Regions from separate parts of the Homo sapiens genome. Here region 2 is linked to region 1. The links come from fine-mapping of genetic effects on gene expression. A gene starts in region 1. The other region holds a variant in brackets. All regions are shown on one strand. Distances are from middle to middle.

Region 1 (5,383 bases):
ATACCATTAAGAACATTCATGATTTATGGAAGGAGGTCAAAAGATCAACATTAACAGGAGTTTGAAAGAAGAAATTCCAACCCTCATAGACGATTTTGAGGAATTCAAGACTTCAGTGGAGGAAGTCACCTCAGATGTAGTAGAAACTGCAAGAGAACTACAATTAGAAGTGGAGGGGCCAGGCGCAGTGGCTCACGCCTATAATCCCAACACTTTGGGAGGCTGAGGTGGGTGGATCACGAGGTCAGGCGATCGAGACCATCCTGGCTAACATGGTGAAACCCCATCTCTACTAAAAATACAAAAAAATCAGCCGGGCGTGGTGGTGGGCGCCTGTAGTCCCAGCTACTAGGGAGGCTGAGGCAGGAGAACGGCGTGAACCTGGGAGGCAGAGCTTGCAATGAGCCAAGATCGAGCCACTGCACTCCAGCCTGGGCAACAGAGCAAGACTCCATCTCAAAAAAAAAAAAAAAAAAAGAAGTGGAGCCACAAGATGTGACTTGCTGCAATCTCATGGTAAACCTTTAATGGATGAGAAGTGGCTTCTTATGGATGAGGAAAGAAAGTGCTTTTTTGAGAAGGAATCTACTCCTGGTGAAGATGCTGTGAACACTGTTGAAATGACAACAAAGGATTTATAATATTATATAAACTTAGTTGATAAAGTAGCCTCGACTTCCTGGGCTCAAGGAATCCTCCTGCCTCAGCCTCCCATGCTTCTAGGACCACAGGCATTCCACCACGCCTGGCTAATTTTATTTTTTTTGTAGAGACGGGGGTCTCACTTTGTTGCCCAGGCAGGTCTCAAACTCCTGGGCTCAAGCAATCCTCTTGCCTCTGCCTCTCAAAGTGCTAAGATTAGGCTGGGTGCAGTGGCTCACGCTTGTAATCTCAGCACTTTTCGGAGGCCAAGGAGGATGGATCACTTGAGGTCAGGAGTTCGAGATAAGCCTGGCCAACATGGTGAAACCTTGTCTCTACTAAAAATACAAAAATTAGCCAGGCATGGTGGCGGGCACCTGTAGTACCAGCTGCTCGGGAGGCTGAGGCAGGAGAATCACCTCAACCTGGGAGGTGGAGGTTGCAATGAGCCAAGATCACGCCATTGCACTCCAGCCTGAGCAACAGAGACTCTGTCTCAACAAATTAAAAAAAAAAATAAATAAAGTGCCCAGATTATAGGTGTGAGCTACCCTGCTCAGCCTAAAGTATTTTTTAATCAAGGTATGTAAGTTGTTTTTTAAGACATAATGGTATTGCACACTTACTAGACTATGGTATAATGTAAAAATAACTTTTTTGCCCCATAGGATCTGCAGGAAAACATACTTTTACATGCAACGGAAAACCAAAAAAAAAATAATTGTGTGACTTGCTTTACTGCAGTGGTCTGTAACTGAACCCACAAGAGCTCCAAGGTATCCCCAGATCTAGAATCCAACTACTTCTCACCATCCCTTGGGCTTCACCCTGGTCCAAGTCTCCAATATCTCTTGTTTAGAAAAGTAACTACAATAGCTTCCTAACCGGTTTCCCTTTCAGTCAGTTCTCACCAACAGACACATTAATCCTCTTAAAACGTAAATCAGGTCATGTCAATCCGCTGTACTACCCACCTCACAACAGTAAAAGTCAAAGTCCCACGATCTACAAAGACATACCAGGTCTTACCCTCCTCCCCCATCTTCTACAATTATACTCCAGACTCAGTCCTCTGTAGCCACACTGGTTCCCATTCTGATGTATAGCTTCTAAGCCTCAAGACCTTTGCACTTGCAGTTCCTTCTGCCCGTACCCCTATTCTCCCAGTTGTATGCATGGCTGTGATCTCTCACCTCCCTAAAGTCTTCGCTCATATGTCACCTTCCTTATGACTAACAATGACATTTAAAACTGCACTACCTGGCCCGGCGTGGTGGCTCATGCCTGTAATCCCAACACTTTGGGAGGCTGAGGCGGGCGGATGCCTGAGCTCAGGAGTTAGAGACAGGCCTGTCCAACACGGGGCAACCCCCTTTCTACTAAAAATATAAAAAATTAGCCGGGTGTGGTGGCGTGGGCCTGTAGTCCCAGCTACTCAGGAGTTTGAGGCATGAGAATTGCTTGAACTCGGGAGGCAGAGGTTGCAGTGAGCCTCTCTGCAGAGACTGCATAGGCTGGAGTGAAGTAGATCGCGCTACTCTTCACTCCAGCCTGGGCGACAGAGCGACACTCTGTCTCCAAAAAAAAAGAAAAAAAGAAAATCCTGCACTACTTACCATTCTTCTTTGTTTTATCTCTCTCCATGCCACTCAACCTTCTAATGCACAATATTTTATTTTGCTTATTGTCTGTCTTCCTACACAAGAGAGATAATATTAAGCTCCATAATATTTTTTGTATGTTCTGCTCACTGCTATATACCCAGATTCTGGTACATAGTCGGAATTCAATAAATAACTGCTAAATGGAATTAACAGTCAACAGGAAAACATTCTAGTCAGACATATTTTGAGAACAAAGGATTTACAATATTATATAAACTTAGTTGATAAAGCAGCCTCGACTTCCTGGGTTCAAGGAATCCTCCTGCCTCAGCCTCCCATGCATCTGCGACCACAGGCATGCCACCATGCCTGGCTAATTTTATTTTTTTTGTAGAGACGGGGGTCTCACTTTGCTTTGAGATGCTAATGACCAGACTCCAAGAGTGCAGAGGCAAGGCAGAGTAGAGAGAGGAAGCAGAGAAAGGGGAGAGGAAAGAACGGGGGAAAAAGGTAAAGGGGTCGACTCACGTGGAAAAATAGCCTACCTGCAGGGTTGAAGGACTTCTGATGCCGAGGAAACCTATCAGAAGACTGTCTCCAATACCACGATGTGGAAGCATGGAAATTCCAAGGCTGGCCGCTGGGTTGAGGCTGAGAATCAAGGGGAGACTGGGCGTCGAAGGGGGGTTGCGCCCCGGGAAGAATCTGGGCGTCGAAGGGGGGCGGAGCCCCGGGGAGAGACTGGGCCTCCATGGGGGGCTGCGACTCAGAGGAAGGCTTTGACCCGGCTGCGGGAAGCGAGGACGTAAGTGGTGGTGGCGGTGGCGGCAGCATTGCCCAGAACATCCAGCTGTCCCGCGGCGGGGCAGTGTCGCTCAGGGGCCCTAACGTGGGAGTCAGCTCGGGAGACGCATGCCACCCGATAGGAGTCTCGAAATCACTAGTCGGCTCAGCCATACCACTGGCGGGTCCGGAGTCTAGCACGCGACTGTGGAGCAAGCATTAGGCGTCACTTCCTTTACCGTGAACTACAAGGCTCAGCCAACCACAGGCTTTACGTCATTTCTCGGCGCCGGGAAACCTGCCATTCTTCGCTGCTGATCGCGGGATTCTTTTTGGATAGGGTTGACGTTCGTGGATAGACTCATATCTGTGACCAGTGTCCGCCACCGCGGATGGCAAGAGACCTGATCGGACCGGCCCTGCCGCCCGGCTTCAAGGCCCGCGGAACAGCGGAGGACGAAGAGCGGGACCCGAGCCCTGGTAAGCGGCGGCGTCTCCGCTGCCCACCAGGCCCATCTACCCACTCCCTGGCCGGGCCCTGCTCGCTGAAGAAAGTCGGAGGCCTAGGAGGGCGGAGGAGTGGGGAGTGGGCGCGGCCTGACCCGAGAGAACTTTTCTCTTCCCAAACAGTAGCAGGGGGGAGGAGGCTGGGGGACCCTCCTAGAAACGAGCTTTGGCGTGGTTTGGCTTCGTGATGATAATACATTCTCATTTAGCCTTAATATGAGCTGCACGCTGCCCTAACTGACTGATACCCACTCAGTCATTTAAGCCGTATAAGAAAAAAACTATTTTCCCATGTTGCAAATGGGTACGCCCAAGCCCATGCCAGTGTCTAGATCATACTGCTAGCAAGTGATGGAGCGCGACTTAGAAGGAAGCGGTTCTCTTAACCTCTGTGCCATATTGCCTTCTGATTACAAGAACCTTGCAGATCCTGTTCTCTCCAGCCCCCGACCTGCCTTCCTAGCCTCTCATTCTGTTATTGCATCTGACAAACACAGCCCAATACTCAATCCAGTCTGAGTTGCTGCGCAATTCCTTAACGCTCTAGGCTTCTGGGCTTCCTCTGGTTGCATTCCTAAACATAACTGACAAACTTCTCCCCATCCTTCAAGGCCCAACTTAAATGTCACACCAATAAAACCTTTCCAGATTCCCCGAAGCATTGTCATGCCTTTCTTTTTGCCCTCGGGTTTTTTCCTAATTACATTGCATATTTAGTACACTGTATTTGAATAATTTGTCGACATAATCTGTCTCCACCATTGCACTATGGTCTTCTACCTGAACACGCAACAGGCACTTGGTATATACGAAACGAATGCTTCTCGGATTCCGGCATGCATACCTATCTGCTTTAATGTTTATTCACATTTGTAGACTAGCACCGACACCCAGTTGGAGAAGAGTAAAGCTGAAAGAGTAACCCTGCCATTTCTGAATCTAATTTTTCTTCCTGGTCTACCCGGAGGCTATGTTTCTACTACAGGCCCCTTTCCAATATAATTTCTGTCATAACCACTTTAAAAATTATGCCTTCCAGCTGAGCGAGGTGGCACAAGCCTGTAATCTCAGCACTTTGAGAGGCTGAGACGGGGCGGATCACTTGAACTCAGGAGTTCAAGACCAGCCTGGCCAACATGTTGAAACCCCATCTCTACTAAAAATACAAAAATTAGCCGGGCGTGGTGGCGGGCGCCTGTAATCCCAGCTGCTCTGGAGGCTGAGGCAGGAGAATCGCTTGAACCCAGGAGGCGGAGGTTGCAGTGAGCCGAGAGTGCCACTGCGCTCCAGCCTGGGCGACGGAACGAGAGTTTGTCTCAATAAATAAATAAATAAAAGTAAATGTGAAAAATTATGCTTTCCTTCCTGTAGGAGATAGCTTTAAAAAAATAAAATAAGGCCAGGTGCGGTGGCTCACGCCTGTGAACCCAGCGCTTTGGGAGGCCGAGGCGGGCGGATCACGAGGTCGAGAGATCGAGACCATTCTGGCCAACATGGTGAAACCCTGTCTCTACTAAAAATACAAAAATTAGCCAGGCATGGTGGCACGTACCTGTAGTCCCAGCTACTTGGGAGGCTGAGGCAGGAGAATTGCTTGAACCTGGGAGGCGGAGGTTGCGGTGAGCCGAGATCGCGCCACTGCACTCCAGCCTGGCGACAGAGTGAGACTCTGTCTCAAAAAAAAAAAAGAAAAAGATTCTTCGTATATATTTGTTGAATGACTTCTCTTCGTCAAGCACAATATCTTACACGTAGTGTGTCATTTTAAACACATAATCTCCCCTGCTATAATTCCATTCCCTTCATAACCGCCTAGATGGCTGAACCTAAAACGGTTGCCAAAAAAT
Region 2 (5,383 bases), 33 kb before region 1:
TTTATTCTATTCTGAGGGTTATAATTTATTATTATTTATTTTGTGGCACCAATTGTTCCAACTTTGGCCCTTGGGAACTCTTTCTAGTATCCTTCTGACATACCCACATCTTCACATTTTTTTAGCATTTTCTTACTTTCTGGCGCTATGAGATGCTCTAGGTTCAGCTTATATTTTCCCTGTCCCAACCCCAGAATCAGTCATTTCTCCAACAGGCTCTGGTTCCTTTACCTGGAGAATAGTATTTGGAAACCACAATTAGAGTGCTAGGTATACTTGTTCCTAGGAGTGTCAAAGCTCACTATACTTGACTTACCTAAAGGGTAAGTTACAAATTCACACAAATAAACAACTCTTTCCCTATTTTTTCTTCTCCACTCAGTTAAATGTTTAAGGGACAAACCATATGTAATAACACTTTGAAAAATACTGTCCTTTTGGCACTCTCAGAACATCTCCTACAGTAACTTTTCATCTTAAAAAGAAAGAAAGAAAGAAAGAAAAGTCCCTGGGATCTACCTAGTAGTTCTAATGCAGGCATTTTTAGCACCTATAGGTAAAGACTATGCTGAAGGCATTGTACTGGCTGACAAAATAATACTCAAGAAACTTCATTTTATAAAAACAGCTAAAACATCTTTCTAAACTGAAAATACCAGCATAGAGATAGCAGCAATTGATCTGACAGAACCAGACTTTAGCATTTTTATAAAATACGAGCTCAAACAATTTCTTTTACCATTAAAACATTAGCGACACTTTTCTTAGGGTAAATCTCACCTCTCTCGTATACACACATCATGTTCCCACCATCCCCCCCTAAAAAAATCTAATGCAATGATCTAAAAATTATTCTTAGACTATGAGTTTCTGGAAGGCAGGGAGACTCCTTTGAAATCCTCGGCATTATAGTGGATTACAGTGCTGGGTAAGCCAAACGCAGGACCTTATAAATCCCCACTGAAAGGAAAGTAGCAAAATAACATTGCCCTTTGAATGCCTTGTCCGCTCTAAACACCAACTGTAAAAGCTTCCTATCTGGCTTCTTCCTGTAACTTATTTCTTTACTTACTTATCCGTACCCCCTGCCCACCAACCCCCATCCCACGATTTCCTATTGCCTTTATGGAGCAAAGCACAATTATATGCTCTAGCCCAAGATTTGCAATTAAGTATTCTTTAAAAAATGCAATATATTTTCAAAGTCACCCTCAAAAATAGGGACTTTGCTTTATAGTCTCCAGCTCTCAAAGAAGACAGTTACCAGTGGGTATCCATGACACCTGATGTGCTGGGCCAGTTTATTTTCTTATTTTAATGCCTACCTTTAAAACAACCTAGGTTACGTGAGTGCATAGTTAGACTTACGTCCCAGTGTTCTACGACAATAGCTGTATTTCAACAAATGACTAATAAGTTGGGTTGCCTTTGTCTTGTGGATGCTGAGGCACTTCAGTCACAGATGCTCAATGCTACCTTACTGACCCACTTTCTTCCTAGCTGAGACAACTGACTTACTGTTTAAAACTACAGGCTAGGAAAGCCATAAACTTGTTGCATATATATTTTAAACAATGGCAACAAAATGAACTGGATGCTAACTAATGAGATACCAAAATAAACAAAGAAAAAACAATCCTTAAGTTAGGCCAGTCAGCAGAATACACAAGGAAATAAAAAAATATGCTAGTAAGGAAATCTAATGACAGACAATAAGCCACACTCAAAACTGATAAATTGGGAGACTTCTTTAAATAAAAGGCTTTCCCATCAAAACAATGTCAATTCTCAATTCAAAGTAGCTGCACAATTACTGAGAGTACACATGGCACCAAATACAATACAGAAAAGGTGAACCCAGGCAATGATTTTCCAAGCATGATCTGAAAGTTATGAAGATCCTCTAGAACTTGAGTCTTGTTTAAAATGTGAGTGCTGATGTCTGGATTAAGTTCTGAGCCAGAAAAAGGCAAAAAATGGAAGCAATAGGGAGAGCTTTATTATTAAAGTGAGCTTAGTGCTGAAAAGTATCAACTGCCATATGAGAACAGTGGGTCTTGTTATCACAGTGCTGGCCGCTGGCCTGCCACTGACAACTTGAATAACCAGATTTTAAGGTTGGCTGGCTCTTGCCCAAGGTAAGAGAAGCTGCCTCCAAACAAGTGGAAAACATATATTGGAGAGTGGAGAATATTTACGGCAGGGGTGTCCAATCTTTTGGCCTCCCTGGGCCGCATTGGAAGAACTGTCTTGGGCCACACATAAAATATACTAAGAACAGCTGATGAGCTTAAAAAAAAAAAAAATCACACAAAAGAATCTCATATTTTGGCCGGGCGCGGTGGCTCACGCCTGTAATCCCAGCACTTTGGGAGGCCGAGGCGGGTGGATCACGAGGTCAGGAGATCGAGACCATCCTGGCTAACACGGTGAAACCCCGTCTCTACTAAAAATACAAAAAATTAGCCGGGCGAGGTGGCGGGCGCCTGTAGTCCCAGCTACTCGGGAGGCTGAGGCAGGAGAATGGTGTGAACCCCAGGGGGCAGAGCCTGCAGTGAGCCGAGATTGCGCCACTGCACTCCAGCCTGGGCGACAGCGAGACTCCGTCTCAAAAAAAAAAAAAAAA[A/AAAAAG]AAAAGAATCTCATATTTTAAGGAAGTTTACAAATTTTTGTTGGGCTGCATTCAAAGCCATCCTTGGCTGCATGCAGTCCATGGGCCATGGTTTGGACAAGCCTGACTTAGGACATATGAAAACGGGGATAGATTGTCTGTAGCTATACCTGCAGTGAAAAGTTAAAGAACCTATGGCCTAAAACAACGGTCCCCAGCCTTTCTGGCACGAGGGACCAGTTTTGTGGAAGACAATTTTTCCAAAGACAGAGGGTGGGGGGTGGATTGGGGATGGTTTCAGGATGATTCAGCACATTACACTTACTGTGTACTTTATATTACTATTACATTGTAATATATAAAATAATTGTACAATGCACCATAATGTAGAATCAGTAGGAGCCCTGAGCTGTTTTCCTGCAACTAGACAGTCCCATCTTGGGATGATGGGAGACAGTGACAGATAATCAGGCATTAGATTCTCATAAGAAGCACACAACCTAAATCCCTCACGTGCACAGTTCACAATAGGGTTCACGCTCCTATGAGAATCTAATGCTGCTGCTGATCTGACAGGAGGCGGAGCTCACAGGTAGTAAGGCAGGCAATAGGGAATGTGTAAATACAGATGAAGCCATGCTTGCTCGCTGCTCCCCGCCTCCCCATCCCCGCTCCCCCCTGGGGTTCCTAACAGGCTAAGGAACTGTACCAGGTACCAGTCTGTGCCCAGGGGTTAAGAACCCCTGGTCTAAAACAGATTTGGAAAATGTCAAAGTCCAGAGGAAATCCCAGGTAAAGGATAAGGTGAATTTAAATGACAGCTTTCCTACAAACTTAAGCTACCATAATTTGATCATTGGCATTGTGATTTCCTTGGTTATAATACAATATTATAAAAATTAATAAATTTTTAAATATTCAAAATTATAAATTTGTAGTCTATATGGGTAATTTTTATATTCAAGATACAGGTTCTCATCTTTGACACTCGAAATAGGCATGTTCCCATCCTTGACCCTCATTATAGGTAAGGGTTTCAACATTTAAACCAAAACAAAATTATTTGAGATTTCTCTTTCTTTTTTCTTTTTTGAGACCGAGTTTTGCTCTTGTTGCCCAGGCTGGAGCGCAATGGTGTGATCTCAACTCACTGCAACCTCCACCTCGGGGGTTCAAGCAATTCTCCTGCCTCAGCCTCCCGAGTAGCTGGGATTACAGGCATGCACCATCACACCCGGCTAATTTTTGTATTTTTAGTAGAGACAGGGTTTCATCATATTGGCCAGGCTAGTCGTGAACTCCTGACTTCAGTTGATCCACCTGCCTCAGCTTCCCAAAGTGCTGCAATTACAGGCGTGAGCCACCATGCCCAGCCTGAGATCTCTCTTTCAACTGCTCCTCAGAATCCAACTGAATTATTTCTACCAATAAGGATGAGAGGATTTACCACTGTTTCTCATGTCTAAGGCATCTACTGAGGACTAAGACAAGCTTAAATAGAAGCAAGATACAATCGTCTTTTAGTTGGTGTTTTACCAGATTAGTATATACTGAAATACTTTTTTTTTTTAAATAAAAAGGGAAAACAGAATTAACCATCTACCAAAGCTAAGTTAACAAAATGAAGAACAACAAAGACTATCCAATATCGGTCTTAGAGTCCTTCAAGTGTTCATTTAGAAAATTGCACAAAGTAAAAGATTTACATAATTTTCAAATTAGTAACTTACTGATTATAATGGTAGTCTTCACATTTGTGTTTTAAGTGTTTTAATGACATAAAAGCTTATATTTGAGTACAGATGGTCTTTTGTCATCAAGGCCACACATTACAAGTCTGAAGAAGCATGTGAGCTCTCTCTAAAATTTTTTGAAAGAAAACAAACAAAAAATCAGTGCCCAAGAGTACACTCAGCACTGGCTCAAAATATCATCTGCCTTTTTCTTGCTCTCTCTCACATCTCAACTATCCTAGACTCAAACAATATTTTTTTATACAAATTCAGACTTCATATTTAGAGGATGTGTAGTGTACTGGTGGAGTGAGACTCATATGTTCAAATTCTCATTCTGCCACTAATGAGCAGAATGACTAAGATAAACTATTAGGTTGATGCAAAAGTAACTGCATTTTTTACTATTACTTTCAATGGCATAAACATACTTAGTCTCTATGTTCCTCATTTCTAAAATGGTAACAGTAACGGTATATGTGTAAAAGGCTGTCATAAGAAGACTTCATCTATATAAAGCATATAGAGCTCAGTAAGTGCCTTATTCAGTGTTAGTTGATATTAATATATCATCATTAATGTTATTAAATTTTATCTTCTACTTAGCCTAATGTTCCCTTATGCAATGATCTTTTTCCATCCTAATTCAGTCAACGAATTAGTTATCCTCTCTTTTCTTGCCACTCGTAAGTTCAAAAACTTGCCATGTGATTATCATAGAAGCCAACATCATCCAAGCTAAACAGCCTACAATCAAATCTACAATGTCACTAATGTCAATTCACTCACTAATAATCTTTGGGTATTCCTTTGCAGTACAAAGCATATGCAATTAGATAAAGCCTCACAATGTTACTGGAGAAAAATGTAGTAAAAATATTTACATACACATTTCATTTTTCAGGAAGAGAAATGGAGTCTCAAAGGCTAAATGATATCTGTATGTGACACCAGCATTTTAATGCTTTTATTTTTCAACTAATAAGCAAGTTAACTTGCCCTATATGTTTTAGAGGAAATTCAAGGACAAACATATATAAATATA

Direction of the effects. Alleles are on the strand shown, and positions count from the first base shown. SD is a standard deviation of normalised expression in the study named.
For the expression in prefrontal cortex of the gene that starts at base 3,238 in region 1, A is the high allele of the variant in region 2 and AAAAAG is the other (large effect, 1.1 SD a copy in BrainSeq).

Evidence for each region.
Region 2: its variant is fine-mapped to the expression of NUFIP1 in prefrontal cortex (BrainSeq, PIP 0.95).

Annotation. Positions count from the first base shown.
Region 1 is chr13:44,986,234-44,991,616 of GRCh38, forward strand. It overlaps NUFIP1 (nuclear FMR1 interacting protein 1), which reads right to left and starts at 3,238. Exons shown (of 10, transcript NM_012345.3): 1 at 2,792-3,238. The coding sequence starts at 3,203. GPALPP1 (GPALPP motifs containing 1) reads left to right here and starts at 3,305. Exons shown (of 8, transcript NM_018559.5): 1 at 3,305-3,509. The coding sequence starts at 3,422. RefSeq lists enhancers at 2,776-3,414, 3,039-3,108, 3,299-3,488, 3,415-4,051.
Region 2 is chr13:44,953,532-44,958,914 of GRCh38, forward strand. The region is part of intron 7 of NUFIP1 (nuclear FMR1 interacting protein 1); the gene reads right to left. Among named protein-coding and RNA genes, the nearest start is that of NUFIP1, 33 kb to the right of the region's middle. The variant A/AAAAAG (reference allele first, on the strand shown) is at 2,627.